3 linked regions of the Homo sapiens genome follow. The protein of the gene in region 1 purifies or fractionates together with the protein of each later gene. This does not show direct contact. Each region holds a gene or a part of one and is shown in the gene's direction. Other genes may lie near its edges.

What was found.
Region 2: the proteins of TNNT3 (region 1) and TTC4 purify together in Homo sapiens (co-immunoprecipitation; one large-scale study listed by IntAct). This does not show direct contact.
Region 3: the proteins of TNNT3 (region 1) and GID4 purify together in Homo sapiens (affinity purification with mass spectrometry; one large-scale study listed by BioGRID and IntAct). This does not show direct contact.

Annotation. Positions count from the first base shown.
Region 1 is NC_000011.10:1,936,557-1,939,288, forward strand, and holds the end of TNNT3 (troponin T, fast skeletal muscle), read left to right. Parts: intron 1-406; coding exon 407-447; intron 448-1,881; coding exon 1,882-1,936; 3' UTR 1,937-2,146; downstream 2,147-2,732. UniProt on the Homo sapiens protein: Troponin T is the tropomyosin-binding subunit of troponin, the thin filament regulatory complex which confers calcium-sensitivity to striated muscle actomyosin ATPase activity.
Region 2 is NC_000001.11:54,718,861-54,722,360, forward strand, and holds part of TTC4 (tetratricopeptide repeat protein 4), read left to right. Parts: intron 1-2,302; coding exon 2,303-2,380; intron 2,381-3,500.
Region 3 is NC_000017.11:18,059,744-18,063,475, forward strand, and holds part of GID4 (glucose-induced degradation protein 4 homolog), read left to right. Parts: exon of another isoform or gene 1-5; intron 6-2,101; coding exon 2,102-2,232; intron 2,233-3,732.

The DNA of each region.
Region 1 (2,732 bases):
CCGTTCGGAGCTCTGAGCTCAGCGGCTGAAGGGAGCTGGAGCTGAGAAGGAGGGGTCCGCAGGCCTCACCTGCAACCCCTCCCCAGCCCCATCCGTGCTCCGTACCCCCCGCCCCACATCCTGCCGCAGGCTGAAGGTAAGTGGCCAGCTACGGGCTGCTGTGTGTGGCAGTCCAGGCCAGTACAGGCTGGCGAGAGTAAGTCCAGGCATGAGCCCAGGGGCCACGGGACGGTGTCCCCCTGCACAAGGAGCCAGGAGACAGTAAGGGAGCCGAGGAGCCCTCATGGGGGCCCAGCAGCCCTGGGTCGCGCAGCCCAGCCCACCCTGCGGTGGAGACAGGCCTTCACCCAGTACACGCAGGCCTGGCCCTCGGGTCGTCGCAGTGAGTCACTCATGTTGTTCACAGATCACCACGCTCAGGAGCCGCATTGACCAGGCCCAGAAGCAGTGAGTAGCCCTGCCGTCCTCGCTCCGCACTGGGCACAGGGGCCCTTGGGGCCAGCCGCTGTAGCCAGTCCCTAACAAGGGCCGGTGGTGGCTGGCCTCGGCAGGGCAGTAACGAGACTAACCCGGCCAGGCCACCCAGGCCAGCATGCGCAGGCCTGTGGCCAGGGACCCGGAGCCTCCTCCCTCTCCTGCACGCAGGGGAGCCCTGGGGGGTGGCAGAGTCAGGAGGAGGGATCCCAATGGGGCTTGCCTGTCACGCCCTCGCCCCGAGTCTGGCACTGGCTGCAGGGAGAGGGCAGCCAGGGGACCCCTAGAAGGGGCTACTCGGGGGGCCTTTGGTGTGGCCAACCTGGGCCCCAGGGTATCCCGCCAGTGTCCCACCCTCCAAGGGGACCTAGGACAGGGAATTAAGCAGTCAGGGCTTCATCACCAGCCCCTCTGTGACGCTGGGCAAAATCATGGACTCCTCAGGATGGTGAAACCTCATCCATAAAATCGTGTCCCTGGGGGCTGTGGGATCCCTTGACACAGCTACTCGACCACCTGCATGGGGCTGCACCCAGGGTGCCCCCGGCGATGCCACGCTGGGGATCCTGTCATGGAGCCCAGCTGCACAGCCAGTGCCATTTCCCCAAGGATCGCAGTGTTTGGGGGCTACTTGGAGTTTCGATGTTTTCTGGGATTCTTCTCCCTCCTCCTGTCGCCTTGGCTTCCCTGCGGCGCCCAGGGCGGGCTCCTCCGTGGTGCACGTGACCTCACGGCCTCCCTGTTGTGCCGTCAGGGGTCATTGCAGACCCCTCTGAGGGTGGGCAGTCGGCGTGGTGTGCATGTGCCTGCGTGTGTGCATGTGTGCATGTGCCGAGAGTGCCCAGGAACGTGTGTGAGGGCACGGCCTTTGCCAGCCAGGTGTCCTGCTGAGCAGCCGCGTCTGAATGGGGCCGGCCTCGCGGGCCGAAGCACTCCTGTCCTCCACCCGCCTTCACCCCTCACCCGCACCCAGCTCCTCCCGGCTCGTGGCCACATGAAGACCTCAGACAAATGGGGCAGGCTCCTGGGCCCCTCAGAGGCCACCGTCTGGAGGGGCATGAGCTCTTTCAAGGCCAAGCGTCTAGGATTATATCATTATCTGCTAAGACAGTCTTCCCCAGCTCAGGGGTCTGTCTGCAGTGGTACCTCAGGCAAAGAAAGGAGGACAGAGGGAGGGTGCCCCGGGCTCACGTGCCAGCCCCCTAACCACACTAACGACCTAGGCCCGCCAGGCACAGGTGAGTGGGCACTGCCCGGACTGAAGCTGGGTGTGGGCCGCAAGCTTGGGCCGGGCCTGTGCCCTGAGAGCAGCCTGGGGTCGGGCTGAGAGTCCGCCCAGGGTGGGGGACCAGGAGGGGCATGGCCAGAGGCCCTGACCCTGAAGGATCACTTGCTTCCCATTTGCAGCAGCAAGAAGGCTGGGACCCCAGCCAAGGGCAAAGTCGGCGGGCGCTGGAAGTAGAGAGGCCAGAAAGGCCCCTCGAGGCAGAGACCCTCCGCCCTCTTGCACACCAGGGCCGCTCGTGGGACTCCACATCCTCCAGCCCCCACAATCCTGTCAGGGGCTCCCTGACAGTCCTGGGGGTGGAGAGGCCATCCCGGGGCGTCCCCCGCGTCTGTGTCCTTGCTGCCTTCATCCCCTGGGGCCTGTGAATAAAGCTGCAGAACCCCCTTCACAGTCTGTACTTGCTTCTGCATGGGGGCCCCGGAGGACACGAGAGGAGGCAGGTAGGGGCTAGCCAATGGCACAGCGTCCTGGTCATCCGCGGGGCCAGCTCAGGAGGGCACTGGCCAGTACGCGCAGGGCCAGCTCAGGAGGGCACTGGCCAGCACGTGCCACCTGCTGCTACGGCCAGGGCGGTGCCTGGATGCCCATCAGACGCTGCCCACAGCTTTTCCCTCTAAAACGTGGGCTCCATCCCCGCGCAAGCCTATAGGGCCCCTCCACTCTCCACTCCCATAGGGTCTTTGTGCAGAAGGGGGTGATCTGCAGGCCTCACCCCCAGCCCCAGACCCTGGCCATCTGCGCCAGCTGTCAATCCACTGGGGGCAGAGAAACTTTGCCTCGGGAGGGGGTGAGGGAGGAGGGCAGGGCTGCGAAAGAGACTTTGCCACCCCCCAGAAAGGCAGAGGCAGGCGGGAGCGGCTCCTGCGTGAGGGGTGCACCCCAGGCCCTGGTCGGGGAAAAACAGTGCAGGAGAGTGCACTCCCAGCAGACAGCAGGCAGGGAAGACACAGACAGCCTTCTCCGGAACGCA
Region 2 (3,500 bases), on another chromosome or scaffold:
AAGTGATCCACCTGCCTTGGTCTCCCAATGTGCTGTGTACTCAGTGGACCTTTTCAGTCTGGAAACTCATGTTTCTAGGACATTTTCCTGAATGCTTTGATATTTTTCTTTTTCTTTTTTACTCTTTTTTCTCTTTTTGGAAATCCTGGCTGCTGGTACTTTGGGAACCAAGTAGGAGAAGAGGACCAAGGGCTCAATCTTTAATATTTCCTTTACTGAATCACCTTTGTGCCTGGGGGTTCCAGTCCAGAGACCTACTGTTTTATTGTCTGCTAGGGTAAACCTCCAGTCCTCCACCTGGAGGAACAGGGGAGGAGTAGGTCACTGGTGCAGCAGAGGGGTAAGGAATATGGGACTCTGACTGCTTCTTAAGTAGATTTTCAACCCACCTTCACCCCCACTTCCAGAGGTACCTGGTGCCATCAGTTCCTGAGTCCTGAGTACTTTGTAGTTTCTGCAGTGCAGCTTGGTAGCTTTTGTGCTTTCCCTCTACTGGTTTAGAATTCAGTTTCCTTAAGCCTGATACATCAGTTACTTGTTCCTTTGTTTTCCAGCTTTCACAATGTGTTCTGTGTTCTTCTCATTTTCTTTGTCTTTATGGGAGAGAGAGTGGGGATTGAGTTAAATGTATGTGTTCAATCTGCCTCCTTTAACTAAAAGTCCTTGGATCCCTTTCATGTGCATTTTTTTCCATGGTTGAGATCCTGCTGTTCTTCCAGTTTGATATTCAGTTTTTTCACTTAATTTTATAACAAACAATTTCACCGTCATTAAAAATCATTTCTGAATGTTATTTCAATAGCTAAAGTTGCATCATATGGACATGCCACTATTTATACTGTTTGCTTTATTAGTCTGCTATTGTTGAGTATATAGACTGTTTTTTGGTTTTTATAAATAATGCAAAAATAAATAAAGTCATAATATTTTTCTGATAATTCTGATTATTCATTAGGCTAAAGCACGATTTGGCAAACTAGGACTCAGAGTCCACCCCTGGCCCCTTGGCTTGCCATGAACTAAAAATGTTCCATACTTTTTTTTTTTTTTTTTTTAAAGTGACAGGGTCTTACTCTGTTCAGGCTGGAGTGTACTAGCTGTGATCATAGCATAGTGCAATCTTAGACTCCTGGGCTCAAGCAATTCTCCCACTTCTGCCTCCCGAGTAGGTAGAACTATAGGCATGTACCACCATGCCCAGCTAATTTTTAAAAAATTTTTTGTAGAGAGAGAGTCTTGCTATATTGCCCAGGCTGGTCTTGAACTCCTGGTCTTAAGCAATCCTCTCACCTCGGTCTCCCATAGTGCTGGGATTGCAGGAGTGAGCCACCTCCCCAGAGGTTTCTTACATTTTTCAAGAATTGTAATAAAATGAAGAAGAATGTGCAGTAGACCACATGTGGCCTGCAACACCTAAAATATTTATCTGGCCCTTTACAAAATATTTTGCTGACCCCTGGGCTAGAGATTTAGGTAAATACTAAACCATTAAGTAATAATTATAGTATACTCCAGAAAGTTAAAGTATACCTCATGGCTTGCTAGTTTGGATAACTGGTATGTGTGTGACTGCATACTTTTTTTTTTTTTTTAATGCACTTACAAATATATACATGTGTGTCTAGATATTTAGTTTTTTTTTTTTTTTAAATAGGCTTCCTCTATACTCATAGAACCACCACTTAAAACAATATAGAACAGACATCCTACCGTGTTTCTTACATGAGGATCTATCTCATTCTTTTTAATGGCTGCATAGTATTCAATAGTATGGATTTACCATAATTCATGTAATCATTACCAAATTGAGGATATTTGAGTTATCTCCAGCTTTTCACAATTAAAGTAATGCTGTAGTTAACATGCTTTTACATTTATCCCTGCACATTTGTTCAAGTATTTTTGATAATTTTCCAGAAGAAAATTGTTGTGTCAAAGTATATGTACAAAATACATGCTAATTTGCTTTCTAATTTACCCTGAGAGTACCCCTTTTCCATATCTTTTCTAATACTAGATATTATTTGTCTAACTTTTAGCAATTTCTTAATTTTAATTTCCTAATCATTAGTGATGTTGAACGTCTTTTCATGTGCTTACTAGCCATTTACAGTTCTGTAGATTGCCTGTTATAGACATTTCTAAGGCTCTTGACAAGTACAACCATATTTTTTCAAAAAAACAGTTGCTCTCATTTGTATTTCCCCAGGATTGTACAAGAGTGTCTTTGTCACTACATATAAAATTTTGGAAACATTTTGATCTCAAAACTTCTCTCTTTTACTAAACGGTGTTTTGTTAGGCAATTTTCGTTCTGCTCTCAATGATGTGACAGCTGCCAGAAAGCTAAAACCCTGCCACCTCAAAGCAATAATAAGAGGTAAGTCTTGTGGAACTACAGTATGACATTTAAAGCTTTGATATGAAGGTGCTAGGATACTAATAAAGTCATCTTATTTTTGCAGTCTGGGTATTAAGTTCCTGTTCCTTATCAACAGCAACATGCCACTTTTAAAAGAATTCCTCAGAGAGTGACTTAACCCTTTATGTAATAATAATTTGTAGAGAACTAGAAGCCCCTCATTTTAAATTAATAAAAAATAAAATTAATTAAAACAAAGCAGTTGCAAAGCCATATTCTGATTTTTTTTCCAAATTAGCTGATTGAAAGGCAAGGTCTTCAAATGCCATGTTAATGTTAATTAAAAGATAAGTTATGGGACCTTTGCTGATGACTTTGGTGCTGAGATGTTCTCAGATTATGTTTTCTCTTGTAGTCTGACCTTTCTATGTAATAACAGTGCTTTTATTACTTTTATACTTCACCTTTTCTTTGAGAAGCTCATAGGTGCTTTGCAAACTTTAATTTATTCATCACATATTAATCTTCCCTGCATCCCCATGGACCAGCTTAAAATGCTTTTTCAAAATTATGCCTCTTTAAATGTTCATGGTTAAGGGCAGTAGGAAGATCCATGTCCCTCAGCTGTAGGAAAAGAAGGTACTGAACAAAGATTGGCTGATAAATTGAATCTAGGTAATCCTGTGGAATTTGCCTCAGGCTAGAAGTGTGTAATCCTTGATTCAGTTGTTGGTTTAATTTACAATGTGACCTTGGCAAGACACCCACTTTGAATATCAGTTTGCTCATCTCTAGAAGATGGGGTTAGAATCTGTTGGCATCTAAGCCCTTACAATGCTTATATTTTGAAATTCTGTGGAAAACCTAAAGAGGCTAACTGGAGAAAAATGTACATGATAACATGAAATTTTTTTTTTTTTTTTTGATGGGGGAGAGGCAGCTTAAACTGGTAGCCATAAAGAACAAAATTAGGAGACACCTAATGTTTTTGGCCTTGCCACTGCCTTGATGAATAGCTGAAGCAAAGTCTGCTTTTTCCCTCCATTGAAAAAATCATCTGGGATGGACTTTATTCTTCCTGTTTGCAGATGAGGAACCTAAAGCTTGGATATGCTTGGTCCTTTGTCTAAGGTCTAGC
Region 3 (3,732 bases), on another chromosome or scaffold:
ATTGAGTTGCCTTTCCTGGTCTTTATTTTGCATAGCTAACCACTTTAGGAAGTGGGGATCGGCCGGGCGTGGTGGATCACACCTGTAATCCCAGCACTTTGGGAGGCTGAAGCAGGCAGATCATGAGGTCAAGAGATTGAGACCATCCTGGCCAACATGGTGAAAACCCATCTCTACTAAAAAATACAAAAAATTAGCCGGGCATGTTGGCATGCCCCTGTAGTCGCAGCTACTCAGGAGGCTAAGGCAGGGGAATCACTTGAACCTGGGAGATGGAAGTTGCAGTGAGCTGAGATCACGCCACTGCACTCCAGCCTGGCGACAGAGCAAGACTCCATCTCAAAAAAAAAAAAAAAAAAAAAAGAAATGGGGATCACTGGGCGCGGTGGCTCATGCCTGTAATCCCAGCACTTTGGGAGGCCAAGAGAGCCAGATCACGAGGTCAGGAGTTCGAGACCAGCCTGGCCAATGTGGTGAAACCCCGTCTTTACTAAAAATACAAAAATTAGCCAGGTGTAGTGGTGCACGCCTGTAATCCCAGCTACTCGGGAGGCTGAGGCAGGAGAATCACTTGAACCCAGGAGGTGGAGGTTGCAGTGAGCCAAGATTGCGCTACTGCACTCCAGGCTGGGTGACAGAGCAAGACTCTGTCTCACCAAAAAAAAAAAAAAAAAAAAAAAGAAGTGGGGATCACCACTCTTCCAGTAGGTTGCCAGATGCAGAGAGTAAACAGGGAACAGTATGCTCACGAGCTTGCCATCTAGCGGGAAACATGTCAACTAAACAACCTGTTAAAGGAAGTTTATTGTTTGAATTTTGTTTGTTTTGAGACGGAATCTCACTCTGTTGCCCAGGCTGGAGTGCAGTGGCACAGTCTTGGCTCACTGCAACCTCCGTCTCCCAGGTTCAAGCAAGTCTCCTGCCTCCGCCTCCTGAGTAACTGGGACTACAAGCGCGTACCACCACGCCTGGCTAATTTTTGGGTTTTTTTGTTTGTTTGTTTGTTTTTTGAGACAGTCTCACTCTGTTGCCCAGGCTGGAGTGCAATGGCGCGATCTCGGTTCTCTGCAACCTCCCCGTCCCGTGTTCAAGCAATTCTCCTGCCTCAGCCTCCCAAGTAGCTGGGATTACAGGTGCCCGCCAACATGCCCTGCTAATTTTTTGTATTTTTAGTAGAGACGGGTTTTCGCCATATTGGCCAGGCTGGTCTCAAACTCCTGACCTCAGGTGATCCACCCACCTCAGCCTCCCAAAGTGTTGGGATTGCAGGCATAAGCCACCACACCCGATCTGAATTTTAAAATTAATTTTAAAAGCCACAATTTTAGAAGTTGAATAAGGAATGGGAGGGTGTCTTAAATTTGTTTAAAAAGCAATGGGCTTGTTTTGCCTCCAAAGAATGTCTCAGAGTGGCTCATCTGTGGTCCTTTAGTAGACCACCTGAGGCCCTGGAGCTTCTGACCTCATCTCTCTGGGAAAGTAGGTGCCAGGACCTGGGTTTCCAGCTTTCAGCTCCAGCAGAGGTGGCAAGCTTGCCTCTCTCCTAAGGTCCCTGGTAAAGAACAGTACCGTTCTGACTGCTTTTGACAAGGCGTCAAGCTCTTGGAGGGGGTGTCACAGGGGCTACTGGCAACTGCTTTGCACTCAGAATGGTCCACAGACCTACAGAAGCGACTCACTGTTCTAGATGTTATCAAGCATCTGTTGACAGTTCTGAGAACTGGAGCAGAAACTTCGCTCTTCCCAGGTTGATTGTCTGTGGTCTCTGAAAGATAGAGAGGCAGGCAGACAGGCAGGTGAGTAGGTATTGATTTATATATTAGATGTTTCGGCCATGGTACCTTCTCTGAATTGCTGATCCTAGTGAGCTCAAGACACAGTTTGTCACTTTAGTATATAGAATACTCCAGGAGCACATGGACGCTTTTTAGAAGTCAGGCTGAGACCCCACGGGCCCGCCATCACCCAGCAAGTCTAGGTTAGACTATGAGATCCTATATTTTTCTCGAGTGGTCCTTAGAACCCCCTGATGCTTAACAGGGAGGCCCCGTGGGTGGTCAGAGAATGCTATCTGTTACTGACCCTCTTCATCTGTGTGCAGGAACAGTTTCTGGTCCCAGATCACACGATCAAAGACATCAGTGGTGCTTCTTTTGCCGGGTTCTACTACATCTGCTTTCAGAAGTCAGCAGCCTCCATAGAGGGCTACTACTACCATAGGAGTTCAGAATGGTGAGGACCTCTGAGGACAGAGGCCACGGGGAGGGCTTGCTGCCCAGCTGGCTCTCCCTTGGCTCATCAAACCCAAAAGCAACATCTTAGCCTGTCTCTGTATAGATTCTGTGCTTTATTTGGATGCTGAGAGCTTATTTCAGTGATCTCAGTTGCTCACAATAAGGCCTTATCCCTATGCACAGAGCAGAGTAAATGAGATGAAAATGAATTATAGGTGAAAGAACTCATTTCTAAGCACTTTTAAGCAATACTGTATTTTTGGCAATGTTTATCTCAATCTTGCTGGTTTTTATTTAATCCTTGCAAATTGAATTAGTAACTAAAATGTGAATTGATCCAGTACTGGACAATGTGAATTTTGCTGTCAGCAGCTTTTTAAATTTTGTGGCTGCATTCCTTAGAGTTGGTCCGACATGCACTTGATTTAAGGCTCATGACCTGGGGGCCTGTGAGTGGACAGTCCTGTCCAGTGTGTCACCAATAGTAAAGGACTGAACTCTGCCTGAATGCTAACTTTTGCCACCTTTTGAGGGATTCTCCTGCCTCCTTGCTGCTTTTTAAGCACCTTGCTGTCCCCGGAGGGCAAACCATGTGATAAAATGCCTGATTTCCTCTCTGAAGGTAAAAATTCTTTCTTTCCAGTATTTAACACTTTGTTATATGTGAAGTGATCCTACCCTAGATTCCTTGTTCAGTGGTAACGAAATTATATCTGCAAGTAAATGCCAGCCCTGTAGCCACGATTTTTAGGCTTTCAGTAATGGTTTTCACGCAAGTTTGTAAAACTTTTATAATCCTTTTTAAAAATAACAGCTGGCCGGGCACAGTGGCTCACGCATGTAATCCCAGCACTTTGGGAGGCCGAGGCGGGTGGATCACGAGGTCAGGAGATCGAGACCATCCTGGCTAACACGGTGAAACCCCGTCTCTACTAAAAAACAAAAAATTAGCCAGGCATGGTGACAGGCACCTGTAGTCCCAGCTACTCGGGAGTCTGAGGCAGGAGAATGGCGTGAACCTGGGAGGTGGAGCTTGCAGGGAGCTGAGATCGGGCCATTGCACTCCAGCCTGGGCGACAGAGCGAGACACCATCTCAAAAATAAATAAATAAATAAATAAATAAATAAATAAATAAATAAATAACAGCTTTGGTCCGGGCACAGTAGCTCACGCCTGTAATCCCAGCACTTTGGGAGGCCGAGGTGGGCAGATCACGAGGTCAGGAGTTCGACACCAGCCTGGCCAATATGGTGAAACCCCGTCTCTATTAAAAATACAAAAATTAGCCAGGCGTGCTGGTACGCACCTGTAGTTCCAGCTACTCAGGAGGCTGAGGCAGGAGAATCACTTGAACCTCGGAGGCGGAGGTTGCGGTGGGCCGAGATTGCACCACTGCACTCCAGCCTGGGCGACAGAGTGAGACTGCATCTCAAAAAAAAAGTGTACAAGTCAGTGATCTTTCCTATATTAATAGAGTTGTCTAACTATCAAGTTTAG